Linked DNA regions of Homo sapiens: all the other regions are linked to region 1. Evidence: fine-mapped expression QTL. A gene starts in region 1. Each other region holds a variant in brackets. All regions are shown on one strand. Distances are from middle to middle. Region 1 holds the start of FRMD4A (FERM domain containing 4A). Region 2 overlaps FRMD4A (FERM domain containing 4A). Region 3 overlaps FRMD4A (FERM domain containing 4A). Region 4 overlaps FRMD4A (FERM domain containing 4A).

What was found. PIP is the estimated chance that this variant, and not a neighbour inherited with it, causes the effect.
Region 2: its variant is fine-mapped to the expression of FRMD4A in whole blood (TOPMed, PIP above 0.99).
Region 3: its variant is fine-mapped to the expression of FRMD4A in tibial artery (GTEx, PIP 0.98).
Region 4: its variant is fine-mapped to the expression of FRMD4A in whole blood (TOPMed, PIP 0.99). The same link has a PIP of 0.9 or more in blood mononuclear cells.

What each region holds. Positions count from the first base shown.
Region 1 is chr10:14,328,314-14,332,477 of GRCh38, forward strand. FRMD4A (FERM domain containing 4A) reads right to left here and starts at 2,611. Exons shown (of 25, transcript NM_018027.5): 1 at 2,284-2,611; 2 at 1,745-1,870. The coding sequence starts at 1,789.
Region 2 is chr10:13,702,371-13,706,534 of GRCh38, forward strand. All of the region lies in intron 13 of FRMD4A (FERM domain containing 4A), which reads right to left. Among named protein-coding and RNA genes, the nearest start is that of PRPF18, 120 kb to the left of the region's middle. The variant A/G (reference allele first, on the strand shown) is at 1,866.
Region 3 is chr10:13,835,628-13,839,791 of GRCh38, forward strand. The region is part of intron 3 of FRMD4A (FERM domain containing 4A); the gene reads right to left. Among named protein-coding and RNA genes, the nearest start is that of FRMD4A-AS2, 150 kb to the right of the region's middle. The variant A/G (reference allele first, on the strand shown) is at 1,575.
Region 4 is chr10:14,007,296-14,011,459 of GRCh38, forward strand. All of the region lies in intron 2 of FRMD4A (FERM domain containing 4A), which reads right to left. FRMD4A-AS2 (FRMD4A antisense RNA 2) reads left to right here. Exons shown (of 3, transcript NR_199003.1): 3 at 1-231. Among named protein-coding and RNA genes, the nearest start is that of FRMD4A-AS2, 18 kb to the left of the region's middle. The variant G/A (reference allele first, on the strand shown) is at 2,384.

The DNA.
Region 1 (4,164 bases):
GCAGCCATAATATGTGGAAGACCCAGGACCAGAAGAGCCTGTGTGTGTGTGTGGGTGGGGGGGGGGGGTGTATAACAGCAGAAATGGATGCTATTCATTTAATTTGGATACCAAGGATTCATGCTTAGGGGCTTGGAATAAAGCAGATACACATCTTTCTTCTAAGTATAGAAGAAAGGTCCAAGTAGGAGGCTGAGACAAGCGGGTCTAACTCTCCCTAAAGATATTTTTCAAGAAAACTTTTCTCCTCTATATTAACACGATGCAGGATTTATTTCTGTTAGTGTACTAGATAATATAATATACATATGCATGTGTGTGTGTGTGTGTGTGTGTGTGTGTGTGTGCATATGTGTGCCTGTATTTCAGAGCATATAACCCAGGCTCCCAGGTTCCCAGAAGTCTCCTAGACCCCATAGATAATGCATTTTAGTGCCAGCCATCATCACGAATACTCAGTGATGGAATGAAAATTCCTATCCAGTTTATTTGACCACAGGTAGACGATGGAGGATAAAGTATCATCAGACGATAGAATTAGTAAGGGAAAGAAGTCAGGTAATGGGTAATTTCTCTGGAAACTGACAATTTCATTTCTTCTAGTCCTACTCCCCCAGTGAAATGAGAAGTCAGCAGAGGCCCATGAGATAGATTTCAGGCAATTCAACTAAATCTGTGGACCCAGTGGAATTTTGAGCAACGAAGAACCAAGATATCTGTTCCTTTTAACATGACCTGGCTTGCCACCCAGGGGGCAGGCTTCCCACTGACGGCTCTTCCAAGTCACCTCCATAAACTCATCAGGCCTTGCAAAGTTGCATTTCCCCTCCTCATTCCGAAGACACAAATCAATATACACAGAAGCACTTATGCTTGGTTCATAAAATCTCCTGTGTAAATGCTGGAAACATTTCCATGCCAAGCCTGATGCAGGCTACTTCCGACAACAGCCAGTATTACCGTGGTGTGTGGGAACCCTGGGAAAGGAGAGAGATGCAAAACCATGGCAAAAGCCACTGCTGAACCTAGTGTCAAGCCAAAAGCCAATTGGGTTGGAACAAGACAGTGCCCATGTCCTTGTGTGCTTTAATATGGTAAGAGCTAGGGCTTTCTTAATATGGTGAAAATTCCAGAGGGGCATAAGGTGAGTCAGCTGCTCACACACAGATAAATGCCTGGACAAGTCCTGCCAAGGTTGGCCATCAATGGTAGATAGGAAACAAGCTGCTCCCAACTCAGTAGCCCAAGCATCACTGAAGCCACAGTGAACCTCCTCCACCACCTCTACAGGAAAGTATGAGCAGATATATGGGCGCCTAGAAAGAAGACCCCATTCTGTCACCCCATGGGCAACAGATTCCACAGTTGCCCTGAGAAGATATCCAAAAACAAACACAATCAGCTCAATTTAGATGCAAAAGACAAGGGGGAAAGGATGCTGGGAGCTGGAGGAGGCATCCTAGCAATCTATTTCGAGGGGCTCTTAGCACCTGTTTGCAAGCACAGCTCTCAAAATAGCATTCAGCAACAAGTTTCTGAAATGGCAAATCTACAGCTTCTTTTCCCTGCAAGTGCTTTGTCATGCTGATACTCTGACCCAAGAAAGCATTTCCAAAGAGCCTGCGGGATAAAGCGGAGCAATGTTGAACATGTCTGCAGCCACTGCAGCGGCAGCAGCAGCCCACGGTGCAGGGGAGGCTGGAGTGGACGCTGCCCGGGCCCCACCTCCTGTCTGAACACTCACCATCAGCAGGCCGAGAGCTGAGTCGGGCACCAGCTGCACTGCCATGGTCTCCGATTCCCATGCACGAATCCTGCTGCCGAGTCAGTCCTCCTGGGCCCCGGGTGGCTACAGAGCATCCAAAAGCACCTGCAGAAAAAGCAGCCAAAATCCAGACTTAGGGAGCAAAAGGCTCAAGGGGAAGATAGGCCACCTTTCACACAGGGTGGGGAGGAGGTCAGGGAAGACAGGGTGGGAACTGTGCTTAGGGAGGAAAAAAAAAAAAAGAAGAAGGAAAATAGGAAGCTGCAGGTTATTTAAAAGTGAGCCCTCCCTAGCTTCGCAAAGCGGCACAGACAGGGAGACCGCATCAAACACAAACGTGAAAGCTTAGAACACGGAATGTTTAACTGCTACCTTCGCCCTGGCAGCAATTCTTCCTTTAACTGACAATTAAAATAAAACATTCCCTATTGCAGATAAATCAAGCAGCCCGAGCCACCCCCTCTCTCTGCATCTCTCAGCAATTCTGCTGCATAAACATGCTGAATGTCACAACATACCGCTCGCAATCTGGTCAGTGTCTTCTTTGCTGCAGATAGGTGTGTCCCTTTTTGCAAAATCAGATATCTGGGAGTGAGACAGCCGAGTCTGACCATGAGGCACCAGGCAGTCACTGGAGATCAGCAAATGCCCTTACCATCCCCGAGGAGGAAGTCACTTAGGAACTGACCCTTCCACCTTCCCCAGATCTACTTTTCCTCTCCAAGTAGACTGGCCAGCTCAGCTCCCGGTAGGGCTAACATACTTAAGAGGAACATGGAATTGCACTGCCTGTTCTGTGAGCGTTCTGATCTCCCTGGCTGTACCACATGTACGCCGCATACAGACACACTCTACCTCTCTCTCCCTCCCTTCCTCCCGCCCTTCCTCCCTCCCATCCCTTCCCTCCCATCTCTCCACAGGGCTGCCTGTTAGGAATTTTGAAGGAGCCTCCCTAGTTCAGGGAGGCATAGGAGGTGAATTTGTCACAAGGGACACTGCTTAACAGGAAAAGGCAAGTTAGCCTTGAAAATCATATCATGCAGCATTTTCCCCGGAAGATGTCAATGAAGGGAGAAAGAAAAAACCTGCCGAATCTTGTTATATAATGGGTAGCTCAAAGGGCTTTCCAGAGTCAAAGACTTAAGAAAATTAGATATCTTTTCATGAGCACTGTCAAGCTTGTATCTTCTTCTGGAGTCCATGTATTCAACTAAAAATGGTTATTCCTGATACTTCTAGTATGTCCTTTTCTGATTTCTTCCTTTACTCACCTCCTGTAATGGCTCCAAAAAATCCTGAAAATTAACTAGACAGTGTGAAATGTAGAAACATAGAGAACAGTTTTCGAAATAAGAAACTAGGGGGAAGAAATTAATGACCTTTCATGTTCCTGTGCACGAGCATAGCTACTGTTCCTTTATTACTTATACTTTTAAAACTATTGATTTGGGCCAGGTATGGGAGCTCACACCTGCATTCCCAGCACTTCTGGGGGTTGAGGCAGGAAGATAGCTTGAGACCCAAAATTCAGGGTGAGCCTAGGCAACATAGCAAGACTTCATCTCTACAAAAAAAAAAAAAAAAAAGAAAAATAGAAATAAAAGAATTAGCCAAGCATGGTAGTGTGTGCCTAGAGTCTCAGCTACTTGGGAGGCTGAGGTGGGAGGATCAGTTCAGTCCAGGAGTTTAAGGCTGAAGGGAGCTATGACTGCACTCCTGCAATCCAGCCTGGGGGACAGAGCAAGACTCTGTCTCTAAAAAAATTTAAAAATAAAAAGTATTTGCTCATCACAGTGCTTAGCACAGAGTAAGTACTAAAATATATTCAATAAATGAGTGAAGGCTGGGTGCAATGGCTCACGCCTGTAGCCCCAGTACTTTGGGAGGCTGACGTGGGCAGATCACCTATGGTCAAGAGTTCAAGACCAGCCTGGTCAAGAGTTCAAGACCAGCCTGGTCAACATGGCAAAACCCTGTTCTATGAAAAACACAAAAATTAGCCGGGTGCGGTGGGCACCCGTGTTCCTAGATACTTGGGATACTGAGACAGGAGAATCGTTTGAACCTGGGAGGTAGAGGTTGCACTGTGGTGAGATCGCACCACTGCACTCCAGCCTGGGCAACAGAGCAAGGCTCTGTCTCAAAATAAAAAAAAAAAGAAAAGAAAAGAATAAAACAAAATAAAATAAGTGAGTGAAAAATTTTCTCCCATTTTGTTTTTCCTATAGTGGCCCAATGAGCTTGAACCTTGATTCCACAGTGTGTGGATGGAGTCTCATGTTACTGATCCCCGGAACACCAGAGCAACCCTCCTTGCCAGCAGGTGCCTGGAGATTCAAAGCATGACTTGAGTCGCATGCATGTGGCCTTGCACAGAACTGTCAGGACATTCTGACTGT
Region 2 (4,164 bases), 630 kb before region 1:
TACATTTTTAAATCTACATGGAGTAATCAGACTTTAAAAGTGAAAACGGGAACTGTTCATCTCCACATTCATGGAGTTAGGGGGAGTTATATGGTCATGCTCTTAGTGAAGTATATTTTATAGGATAGGCAGATTATTTTGCAAATGAAATCTAAGAATGTGTGTTTGCATGTGTGTGTGTGTGTGTGTGTGTGTGTGCGCATGCATGTGAGACAAGTTGACAGGAAGGTGGGCTGGGATTTGGGGCATTTTACATGGACATCAGAAACAAAATGTATGTTCTCAAGACTAACATATCTAATTTGGAAGAAACCTGGGGGTAATCAGGACTTACAAACAATAACATTTTTTTTCATGGCTAATTTTCCCTTAAAGAAAACAAAGCTGCCAGCAATATCTTACTTTGGGCGGGGGTCGGGGGTGCTAAAGATTTAAAGTGGAGTCTTGTTCACCCTCACTTTTAAGGAGAAATTCAGATCCGGTGGTTAATGTTACTGAGTCCACACAGGTTTTTTCTCCCTTCGGTTCCAACAAAAGTGAAGGAAAAAAAAAAAAAAAAAAGCCAGAGCGTGAAAGAGCACACAGTTGAAAATAATTGAAAAAAGGAGCCAGGGAGAGAGCGAGGGGGAGATCCCTCGCCAGTCTCTCTAAATTTAAAAGAAAACAGGGATCTGTGCTCCCAGCTTGGCTTCCATAGCAGTTCTTGCTCTTGGAAATAAATGAATGACTTTTTTTTCCCCCCAGAAAAGCTGAATTAGACAAGAACAGTATCTTGAAAGGTGGTGCAAGGCTAGGTACCTCCATTTCTCAGGTACCGGGAGGGCAGAAGAGGTAAGTGGCTGGTCAGGTCCGGGTAGTTCCCCGGAGCATCTAAATCAGATACTCAGAGTTCTTCTCCTGCTCTATCATTACTTTATCTCCTCTCCTCATCTTTCGCTTCAAGCCCTTCCTATTTTACCCAAACCGTAGAAGTGAAATATTGGCCCAGCCTGGAGAAGCTCAGAAATGAAGCTAAGCATTGAGTTAGGATGCCCAGGGGGAGAAAGTGCACAGTGTTGTCCAGTGCCCCACAGGGAATGGTGCAATCACACCTGAGCCCATCGGCCCAGAAAGCAGCCTCTGCCCTGAATCATTCCCATCGATTACATCTTCATTAAATGACCGTATCTGGCGTTGCCCATCCTATTACTGCAGTTCTGACTGCCTTCCTGGCTTGGGGGAGGGGCTGAGCCCGGAACACCAAACTAACGTGAGGCCAATCACATTCCTCTTCCCTACCTCAAATAAGCAAGGCCACAAGCAATAGGATGACACATTCAACTTAAAAAGCACCGCGAGGTTCACTTCAAAGTAACTGGAAGAGAGGACTTGCAATGATACCAACATAAAAATAGTAAACACTGAGGCGGGTGGATCACGAGGTCAAGAGATTGAGACCATCCTGGCCAACGTGATGAAATCCCATCTCTACTAAAAATAAAAAAATTAGCTGGGTGTAGTGGCGCACGCCTGTAGTCCCAGCTACTTGGGAGGCTGAGGCAGGAGAATTGCTTGAACCTGGAAGGTGGAGGGTGCAGTGAGCCGAGATGGCGCCACTGCATTCCAGCCTGGGGACAAAGTGAGACTCTGTCTCAAAAAACAAAACAAACAAACAAACAAAAAAACACTCAAGGCCATGGATACCCCACGTACCCTGCCTTGATCATTCCATGTTCTATGCATGTAACGCACTCACACGTGGCTCATGAATACGTGAAATAGTAACTCTCAATACAAGAGAAAAAAGGCACCACTAGGATGTGAAAAAGAGAACTGAGTGCAAGAAAGATCTTACAGCTCATAGCTCTGGCTCTGCCATGCTAAAT[A/G]ACTGACCTGAAGCCATTTCCTTTCCTTGTGTGTCTTTAATGCTGAAGTCATCCCGGGTCTCCACCTCTGGCCTCCCTGGGCCTCTCCCCCATTCCTGCCTGTCTGCAGGCTAACTCAGTGTACTCAGAGCGAGTTTGCCTGGGACGAGACAGCTCTGCTTCTTCCTCTGGGCTCCTCCAACTCCCACTTCCCTCCAGCCAGACCCTCCCTCATTTGTTTATCCTAATTGAGAAGCCCCCACCTGACATCTATATCCCCCTGAGGCCCTACCACGTGGCTTTAATCCTAGTTACCCCTCCAGGTCCAACTCAGACCTCTCCTTCCTGGTAAGCCTCTCCCTTCCTGACCAGCCAGGCCTCTGGTGACCCTGTCCTTCACCCTTCATGGCCCACGACGTCTGGCCCTTCTGTACAGTATAGAGATAAAGGGCATGAGCTCTGGAGCCAGACCTCCTAGGTTCAAATCCTGCCTCTCCTGTATACTAGCTACTTGTCGTCTAGAGCAGGTTTCTTTGTTTCTTGTGACACTCCATGAGTTCCTTCTTCTCAGCCAGGTTCCAGGCAGTGGCTCACGCCTGTAATCCCAGCACTTTGAGAGGCCAAGATGGGAGGATTGCTTGAGCTTGGGAATTTGAGACCAGCCTGGGCAACACTGTGAGACCCAGTCTCTCCAAAAAAAAAAAAAAGCTGGGTACGGTGGTGTGTACCTATAGTCCCAGCTACTCGGGAGGCTGAGGCTGAGGTGGGAGAATTGCTTGAGCCTGGAAGGTGGAGGCTGCAGTGAGCTATGATTGCACCACTGCATTCCAGCATGGGCGACAGAATGAGACCGTGTCTCAAAATAAAAGTTCCTTCTTCTGCCTGTCTTCTCAGTTACACTAGAAGATCTTTAAGGAAGAAGACCCTGCCTCCGACTTCCTTCCTTCCCCGCCACAGCACCCGACAAGGACACAGAAGCTTCGCAAGAAACATGACATTGATCACTGCTGTCTAATAGGCGACAGGCCCACTGAATAGTCACGTGTGAGATCTAGATTCTTTCCTATATCCCTGGGCTTTGGTAAAGAGAGTTTAGCAGTACTCACCAATAGGGCGACAGACGCACAGAGAACACGAACACACATGTGCAGATATATGCGTGCGTGGTTAAAGGATTTGTCCAAGGTGCCTGGGTGTTCACTGAATTCCCAGCAGAGCACAGGCATGGCGGAGGGTCTATTCCCTGCGCTCAGCCCCTTAGATTACCCAGCCCCTCATTTTTATCCTATGGAGCATCCCCTTTCTGCATCTGACCCATTGTGGCAAAGTTCATTTCACTCTTTCTGTACTTAAATTTCCCCTCTCTTACATGCCTAAGAACCTGGTCCAATTCAGTTCACCTGGAAAATGAACAGTGAGTTTCTTCTTGGCTGGAATCTTATTTTTGAAATCTCCCCGCCCACCCCACTTGGCCTGCACAGATGGATCTGTGCTCCATGGAGTGGGGCTTCTGGCCGCGAAACCCCTTGCAGGGCCCTGAGAAACACCGGATAAAATATTTTTCTGTTAAAGGCTACCATTTTCACCTGACTGTGGAGATGCAGAAACTCTCAGCTGCTCTCCACTAACTATTCCTGTAGTAACCGTGGTGCTGAGATAAGCTCTTGCCCTACACAGGAGTGGCTGTTTCAGGCAGATTACCCTGGAGGGCAAGCACGGCTTCATTCCTACCGGGTTATCATGGGCTGCAGGAACAGGGGCTACTGCACAGGTCCAAGCCCTCTCACTGGGCGGGGTAACTCCAAATCTCCCTCCTGTCCAGAGCTCATGGGGAGGGACTGCAGCTTGTTTTGAGCATCAGAAGCCATGTGTGAGCTGGAATTGGTGCCAAGTCCTCCTTCTAAGCCCAGGGCTGGAGCGTCAACAGCGCCTAAAACCCACTTTTGCTCCTCTGTAGAGTCTGATCTTTTTTCTGTCTCCCTGGGGCTACCTTCTTATTGTAAATGTCTCTGACCTTATGGAAAGTGATTTCTTAGTTGTCAGGCCTGGTTTTAGGGAATTACGCTGCTGTTTTTGGGGATGCATATAACTTTAGGTCCAGCGGCAGACAAAGAGAGGAAAACAGTGGGTATGAGCTGCCCAGACCCCAGCCACCTGGGGCTCCCTGCATTCCAACCTGGGGCCCCACTGTCTTGCATCTGACTTAAGAGTACAGGGACTTTTTACAACCCTGGTGCTCTCTGGGGTACGATTTTGGGTGGAGGGAAAAATAATTTCATTTCTTTCACATCCACCCACAATACTAACATCCTAAAATTAC
Region 3 (4,164 bases), 490 kb before region 1:
GTGCTCCATCAGGTGTCTAATGCCTGATGATGTGTCACTGTCTCCCATCACCCCCAGATGGGACAGTCTAGTTGCAAGAAAATAAGTTCAGGGCTCCCACTGATAGGACATTATGGTAAGTTGTAGAATTATTTCATTAGATACTACAATATAATAATAGAAATAAAGTGCACAAGAAATGTAATGTGCTTGAATCATCCCCAAACCATCCCCCTCCCCCTTTCACCAGTCTGGAAAAATTGTCTTCCTTCAAACAGGTCCCTGGTGCCAAAAAGGTTGGGGACCATTGTATTATTATTTTTATTCATTAATTCACTAAGTATTTAGAGAGTGTCTACTATGAGCCTGGCACTAAACACTTCAGCAGAGAATTCAAGATTTTGTTTTTGAGATGGAGTCTTACTCTGTTGCCCAGGCTGGAGTGCAGTGGCACGATCTCAGCTCACTGCAGCCTCTGCCTCCCGGGTTCAAGGGATTCTCCTGCTTCAGCCTCCTGAGTAGCTGGGACTACACGTGTGAGCTACCACACCTGGCTAATTTCTGTATTTGTAGTAGAGACGGGGTTTTGCCATGTTGGCCAGGCTGGTCTTGAACTCCTGACCTCAGGTGATCCACCTGCTTTGGCCTCCCAAAGTGCTGGGATTACAGGTGTGAGCCAAAGCACCGGGCCAGGATTTTGGTTATTCTTTAAGGGATGGACATCAGTCTGTCTTGGAAGAAACTCTCATAGCACTCATCTGACATTTTGGTCACACCACAGCCCAAAGCATTTTTATGTCATTTCCTTGATCTTGGTAGTTTTCCTGGGAAGGAAAAAGAGGTGGTACAGAAATTGACAATTCTTTGGGGGGCGCGGGGAGGAAACAGAGAAACAGAAATGCGAAGTGGCTTGTTTGGAGCCACCCGTTACCCCTAGTAGAGCTGGAATAGGTCTCACATGGTCTTGACAGAGCCAGTTATAGCACTTCCCAGAGTGTTAATTACATCGGGTCCTTGTTCCTCCACAACTGAAGAAGTCACATACCCCAAAATGAGTTTGTGGCCCAGGAGGGAGGGTTTTTCATGGCAAGGAGGGCCTGGAAAGACTGACTAACCAGGGGTCTTCACTCCAGGGTTCCTCAGTGGTTCTTTTTTTTTTTTTTTTTTTTGAGACGGAGTCTCGCTCTGTCGCCAAGGCTGGAGTGCAGTGGCACGATCTGGGCTCACTGCAAGCTCTGCCTCCTGGGTTCACGCCATTCTCCTGCCTCAGCCTCCCCAGTAGCTGGGACTACAGGCACCCGCCACCACGCCCGGCTAATTTTTTGTATTTTTAGTAGAGACGGGGTTTCACCGTGTTAGCCAGGACGGTCTCGAGCTCCTGACCTCATGATCTGCCTGCCTCAGCCTCTCAAAGTGCTGGGATTACAGGCATGAGCCACCGCACCCGGCCGGTTCCTCAGTGGTTCTTAAGCAAATGTGCCCACATCTCACATGGGAACACATGGTGAGGATGGTGAGGCATTTCCCAAACTTACTTGACGCAGACCCCTCTCCAGCACATTTTTGGAAATACTGGCTCCAGAAATGCTTTCCTC[A/G]AGGGGGTTGCTCTTTGAGACAACCACCCAAAATTACAAATACCAGTTTAAACTGCCCTAACTGCTGCCTTTCTCCCTCCCTTAATATGGTCAGTGAGCTGCAAAGAAACTTCTCCCAAAGCCTACTGGGCCGAGCCCAGCAAGGTTCAGGGGCCCTGACACTTGGATTCTGGAGTCCTGATTGGGCCTCGAGTGCTGGCCTCTCCCATGACAAGCCCTGAGAAGCCAAGAATTCCAGCCAAGATTCCTGACCTTGTTTAATGAAACTGTTTAGAGCTTTCCACAGATCAGAAAGCTGGCAGTGGGGAGACTACAGCAGTTACAAAAGATCACGGGGTCACATTTGCAGCCACTGTACTTTTTCTAACAGTTGGCCAGATGAGGCAGCTTCTAATTTCTTATCCACTCAGGCAATGTCATTACTCAAGGTCCATCTCATCTCTTTGTGGGCACCAGTATGTTCACAGGTACACTGACTGACAGTGCAACCTTGCATTCAACAAGAAGATGTGAATATTGTACCATCATGCACTACGCCCAGCTTTCCTCCATCCAATCCCAATCCCACTCCTCTTCTGCAAGTTGTACCCTTAACACACACATCTCTGGTTGCACAGAACTGTTGGGTTCGATATTTTCTATCTTCCCTTCATTTCCTCACTCTCTTCTTCCTGCTTCCTGTTCTGATGACATGACAGCAATCAGGAATCTGGTGGCTACTATGGTGACCTGCCCAATGAAGACCTCTTAAGGGGATGGAGGAAGAAAGCAGGCTTAGCTCTTCTAGAACCTTCCTTTCCATGAAAAACAGGGCACACCTTTTCTTCTCTAATCATCTCCCTATTTAACACATCACAGGAAAGATTGCTGAATTACAACGTGCTATCTCTTTATTTAGTTATTTAGAGGTAGGATCTTGCTCTGTTGCCCAGGCCTGAGTGCAGTGGCGTGATCATAGCTCACTGAAGCCTCTACCTCCTGGGCTCAAGCCATCCTGCCTCAGGCTTCCCAGTAGCTGGGACTACAGACGTGCACCACCATGCAGAGCTAATTTTTTTTTTTTTTTTTTTTTTTAGAAATGGGGATCTCCCTGTGTTGCCCAGGCTGTTCACAAACTCATGGGCCTAAATGATCCTCCTGCCTTGCCCTCCCAATGTGTTGGGATTACAGGCATGAACTACCACGCCCAGCCACAATGTGCCATTTATGATCTCCTTTTGTAAACTTGTCTCTTGCTGCTCTGCTTCTCAGTTTGTTGCATTGCTTCCTCTCTGTTCTGTTTTCTTCCCCCTCCCTCCCTTTTTTTTTTGAGATTGAGTCTCGCTCTGTTGCCCAGGCTGGAGTGTAGTGGCACGATCTTGCCCCACTGCAACCTCTGCCTCATGGGTTCAAGCAATTCTGGTGCCTCAGCCTCCCAAGTAGCTGGGATTACAGGCATGTGCCACCACGCCCAGCTAATTGTTGTATTTTTAGTAGAGACGGGGTTTCACCATGTTGGCCAGGCTAGCCTCAAACTTCTAACCTCAAGTGATACGCCTGCCTCAGCCTCCCAAAGTGCTGAGATTACAGGCGTGAGCCACCGCGCCTGCCTATGTTCTGTTTGCTACATACCTTACAATATGGACCTTAGACTGTAAGTTCCTGGGAGATGGGGACATTGCCCGTTTTCTTTATTATACAGTCTAAAATACTGACCTTAACCAGGACATTGAATAAAAACCATCCAATGATGATTAAGATAAATGCAATGATTAATATGACTTTAGGGCTTGGCTGGAAGAATAATTTCCTTTTTTTTTTTTTTTTTTTTTTAGAGATAGGGTCTTGCTCTGTCACTCAGGCTGGAGTACAGTGGTGGATCTTGGCTTACTACAGCCTTGAACTCTTGGGCTCAAGTGATCCTCCCACCTCAGTCTTCTTAGTAGCTGGTACTACAGGTGCATGCCACCACACCTAGCTAATTAAAATTTTTGTTTGTTTGTTTTTTAGAGATGGGGTCTTGCTGTCCTGCCCAGGCTGCTCTTGAACTCTTGGCCTTCAGCAATCCTCCCACCTTGGCCTCTCAAAGTTCTAGAATTACAGGTGTGAGCCACCACATCCAGCCAGGACCACCATTTCTAAAGGCATTTTGGGAAAATCACCATTTATTTAATTATCCACCTGAACAGGAGACTAAAGAAATTATAGTTTTTGAGAAAATGCTTTCTGAGTGATCCTCCTCTGTGGTCATCTCTGCCAACAGGATTCCTGCCATAAAACGTGCACCAGAGTAATGCAGAGGGCATCTGTAGATGTAGTTGTAAAGTCCTAAGGTTTTCACTGAGACCCCAGTTAAGTTGGCTTTGGGTACCATTGGCGTCCTCCTGTTTTCTTTCTCCTTTCAGCTTGTACAACACTGAGAGCTTAAGACACATGGACTTTTCCAGATTGCCACATGGTCATGTGAAAGACACACCGGCTCCAGGCTCAGCAAGCCAGGCCCACATCATAGCTCACGGCATACAGGCTCCTGGTTCAGGAAAGGAAGGGGGCCTTGAGCCACCAGCCATGTCCCGCAGTGCTTGAGATTGGGAGGAGTGGACTCCTAACA
Region 4 (4,164 bases), 320 kb before region 1:
CACCATATACTTTGTGGGTGTAGGGATTCTCCCTGCATGTTGAGCCTGTCACCCTAATGACAACCAGCTTTGCATTAACTAGAGTCAGCCCCAAAAATGCATCTGTTACTCCAGAGAAGGACAAATCCTTATTATTACTTTATAGGATTTTCTCTACTAGGGGCTTCCATAAAGTAAACATGCTTTCAGGAAATTAACAGAGTAATTTTAAGCCAAAATCCATAGCATTAAAAACAAATAAACCCCAAATGATAGCAATGTATTTGGGGGGAAAAAAGCATGTAATCAACTGCCTGCATAATTTAAACTACCAAAGCTTTGAAGCTCCTTAACATCACCATCACCTCCCTTTTAGACACTGTCACCCAGTAGAAGAAATTCACAGCCCTGCTGCTCTAATGAGTATGTTTCAGTAAACACAGAAGAAATCATTTTCACAGCCCCCATGCATTTCTCAGCAAGCACTCAAATCTTTCAAACCCATTCCAGGGGGAAGTTTCCATCCCAATCTTTTCCCTCATATTTCATCTCTAAGAGCACCCCTCCCCCATCTGAGATCCACAAGTTACAAAAATTACTGTTTCAGGTTTCTCATCATTATCTGTTAAAAAACTAAAATTACAGATGAGATAGTATTCTACAGTCCCAGGAACTCCAACTGTTCAGGAAACGTGAGTAACAGAAGTAACGCGGTATACAATGAAAACAAACATCTTCCTGTCTTTGGAGCAACTGAGAAGCAAACAACCCGCCACGTAGCTTACCCTTTCAACGCTGCGCCTTCTCAGAGATCCATAAGGAATTTTCAGTAAAAGTCTTTGGGATCTATTCGGAGCCACTGCAGCCTGAACCACCATGGTGTACAGCTGTGTGTGTGTGTGTGTGTGTGTGTGTGTGTGTGTGTGTGTGTGTGTGTTCCCAGCAAAGGGAGAGAAGGAGCCTCCCTCAAAAATAAGTTATGGTCTCCTGGAGGGTTCCCAAATATCAAATAACTGAAAGAGTTTTTCTTTCGACCATCTGAGTCAAGATGTGGTTTGTCAGGAGGAGGGGGGATGGGAAGAAAGAAAACCAGCCCAAGTTCTGCAACTTCAGCGCCCACGAAGCAGCATCTCTAGCTTTCTTCCATCTGTCCCTCTGCACAGCTGGCTCAGCGAGACTGCCGTGTCCCGCTTGTGGGCAAGTGACGCGTCTGGGGAGAGTGATCCAGAAATGTCAACTTTGCTTCTCGTGGCTGCAGATGGTAATCAGGTCAGTTGTCTAATCAAAGCTCTATCAGACGTATTATTCATTCCATCACGTGACTCCCAAGCCCCTCGGCCGTACAGTAGGTCACATGCTCACCTTAAAAAGACTATTTGGAATATCACCATCTGGAGTGGAGATTAATGCAGAATCCTACACTCTGATTTCACTCCCTTCTGAACGGAGGAACAATATCTGAAGACCACAGACAGAACACATCAGGGACCTCTTTGAAATCATAAATTCTATCTATAAAACTGAGCATCAGACATGCGTATCTGTTTACCCTTCCTGCTTTCTAACGCATAAAAATAAACGCACGGGTATTACTCACTGTATATGTGAATACAGTCCACAGAGAGAAAGTATGAGGGAAAGAAGAAGAAACTGTTGCAATCACATGGTTCAGATGAATCAAATCAAATCGAACAGGCTTGTGTTTGGCACCTTCTCATTTAAATGTTTGTGTTATAGAACATTTATTTTTACGTGTGCCAGTAAACAAGAAGAAATTATGTTTCGTTTTACACGGCTGTGTCGAAGCAGATTCATCCATCACGTCTGTCAATTATTTTCTGATCATATTGTGTAATTTCAGATCACACAGCCTTCTTTGATGGATGGCATAAATGGTCTCAAACGTTAACTTTTCTGTAATATTTTCCCCTACCTTCCCCATCTCTACTCCTCCTGAAATCGGCTTATTTCCATAGCAGAAAAAATTACTACAAAGAAAATCAAGTAAGGTGCTTCCAGGATATGGGGTATGTTTGGGTTTTTTTTTTCTTTTTCTTTTTAAAGCATTTCTACATACACTGCTTCTGTCTGTTCTGAGTTTTATGAAAGGGATGGCCATTTCCTTTGTAATCATCCCGTGGTTTTTGGTATTAGCCTTGATACCACTCATACGCTCTGGGCACCAGCTTTGAGACACTGTCTGCAGACCAGTGTGCTTACTTCATTGAAAATGACGGAAATGAAGGTTCTGTTTATTCAAACACACCTAATAGGAAATGGGGGTGGGGTGCGAAGGAAAGAAGCAGAGTTTTGTACTATGAGAAAATGAATCAGAAGAAAGAGGCGAAGGGTGCCACGGCGGCGGCAGCAGCGCACGGGCTGGAAACCTGGGTTCAGCCCTCCA[G/A]CGCAGACACACATCACGAGTCAGTTAAAGAAAGCATCAGGTTGATGTGGGAAATTCCAAATATACAACAATTGGGCTTTGTTCGTAATTGGTTCCATGTGTGCAGTAGGAGAGTCAGTGAGAGGGTGAGAGAGACGGGGAGACGGAAACCTCTTAACCACGGCTCACACGGCGTCTTTGGTGAGGTGGTTTAGGTTTACATCTCTTTTTTCTCTCTTTCTTGCTTCTTGCCTGCACTGCCTGGTTTCAGAGCATTGGCGGGGGGTGGGAAAAAATCTGGAACGATACCCGATGATTGAGCCAAAGCAAGAGAAACTCATTTCTTTGTAAAACTGCACTTGACGTTGTAACGGTTTTGAACAAAGGATAGGCACACTTTCAGAACACTTTATCTGTTGAGAGTCACGGCATGTCATTCTTCCAGCTCAGTTTTGGGGTCGGTGGGGGGGACAATGATGAGATGGACTGAGAAGCCACTGTCCTCTTCTCTGACCCAGGCCAGGGCAAAGCCCCGGGGAGCTGAATTTATTTACATTTGACTAAATGCAACTTCCTGTTTCCCAGGGGTATTAATGAGTGTTTCACTGTGGAGCTTAGGCTTATGGCATAGTTCAGATCATAAGGGACATTTTGATGAACTAAGTGCAAATAAAACAAAAACACATGCATTTGATTAAGGTTAAAATACATATAGAAGAGAATGTTAATGGTAACAAAAATAACCCTGGGCCAGACTCCCACACATCTGAGTCTCACACATTCCACATCCTTCCCTTGGGAGGCGGGGAGAAGGATCACTTTTCATATTAGCACAAAAGCCTCCTCCCAGATAATGGAGCCCTCCCCAGTCCCCGCGGAGTAGGTGACCCCCTCCTTGGAGTGATTTCAAGGCTCTCAAAGGTTGCTGGTCCAAAAATATCTTTCTGATTGTCTTGCCATGGGTGTCGGAGACTTACATATTCAAAATTAATTGTCGAGTTTAGGTCTTTTTTTTTTTTTTTTTTTTTTTTAAATAGAGACAGGGTCTCACTATATTGCTCAGGGTGGTCTTGAACTCCTGGGCTCAAGCAATCTCCTCGCTTCGGCCCCCCAAAGTGCTAGGATTACAGGCATGAGCCACCATGCCTGGCCAAGTATTTCTTTCCATTGTTAGAATACAAATATGTTTCCCCGGAAGGGATATGCATTCATACTCTCACAGTTATGACCACTTTAGGAGAAGCAAGGGGAATGAATGTTCACTGAGCACCTACCCATTGGCAGGCCATGTGCTGTGAGGTTATCAAAGGCTACTTCCATGGAGGAAATGCGTTTCATTATCCCTGTTTCAGTGGTGAAGAAACTGGTGCTCAGAGGGGCTTAGTAAGTTGGCCAAGGCAGCACAGCTAGAAATGTCAGAGCTAGGATGAAAACCAAAGTCAACTGGTGTGATTTCAGGGCCCAGCTTGCCTGTCCTACAGGACTTTATCAGATTACAGCAGTTTGGAAATCCCAAAGGAAGATACATCCATTGAACCCAACAGGAAAATGGAAAACTCTGTCTTTGAAAAGAAGAGAATGTCAATATAGGAAATTGTTAGATTGAGCAATTTTAGAGTTTCTGGAGCTGCTGCTTTGATGTCACCAGGAGTTGGGCACAGGGGACGGAGGGGCTAAGAACCACAAAGGGGGAGGCAGGGAGGCTGGCCTAAGGGGTCAAGGGAGGAGCCGAGTTATTAGAGCCAGGGGCCAGGTCACCTAGTGGAGTCTAGAACCTTGGAGACCCATCCAGTGGGAGACTC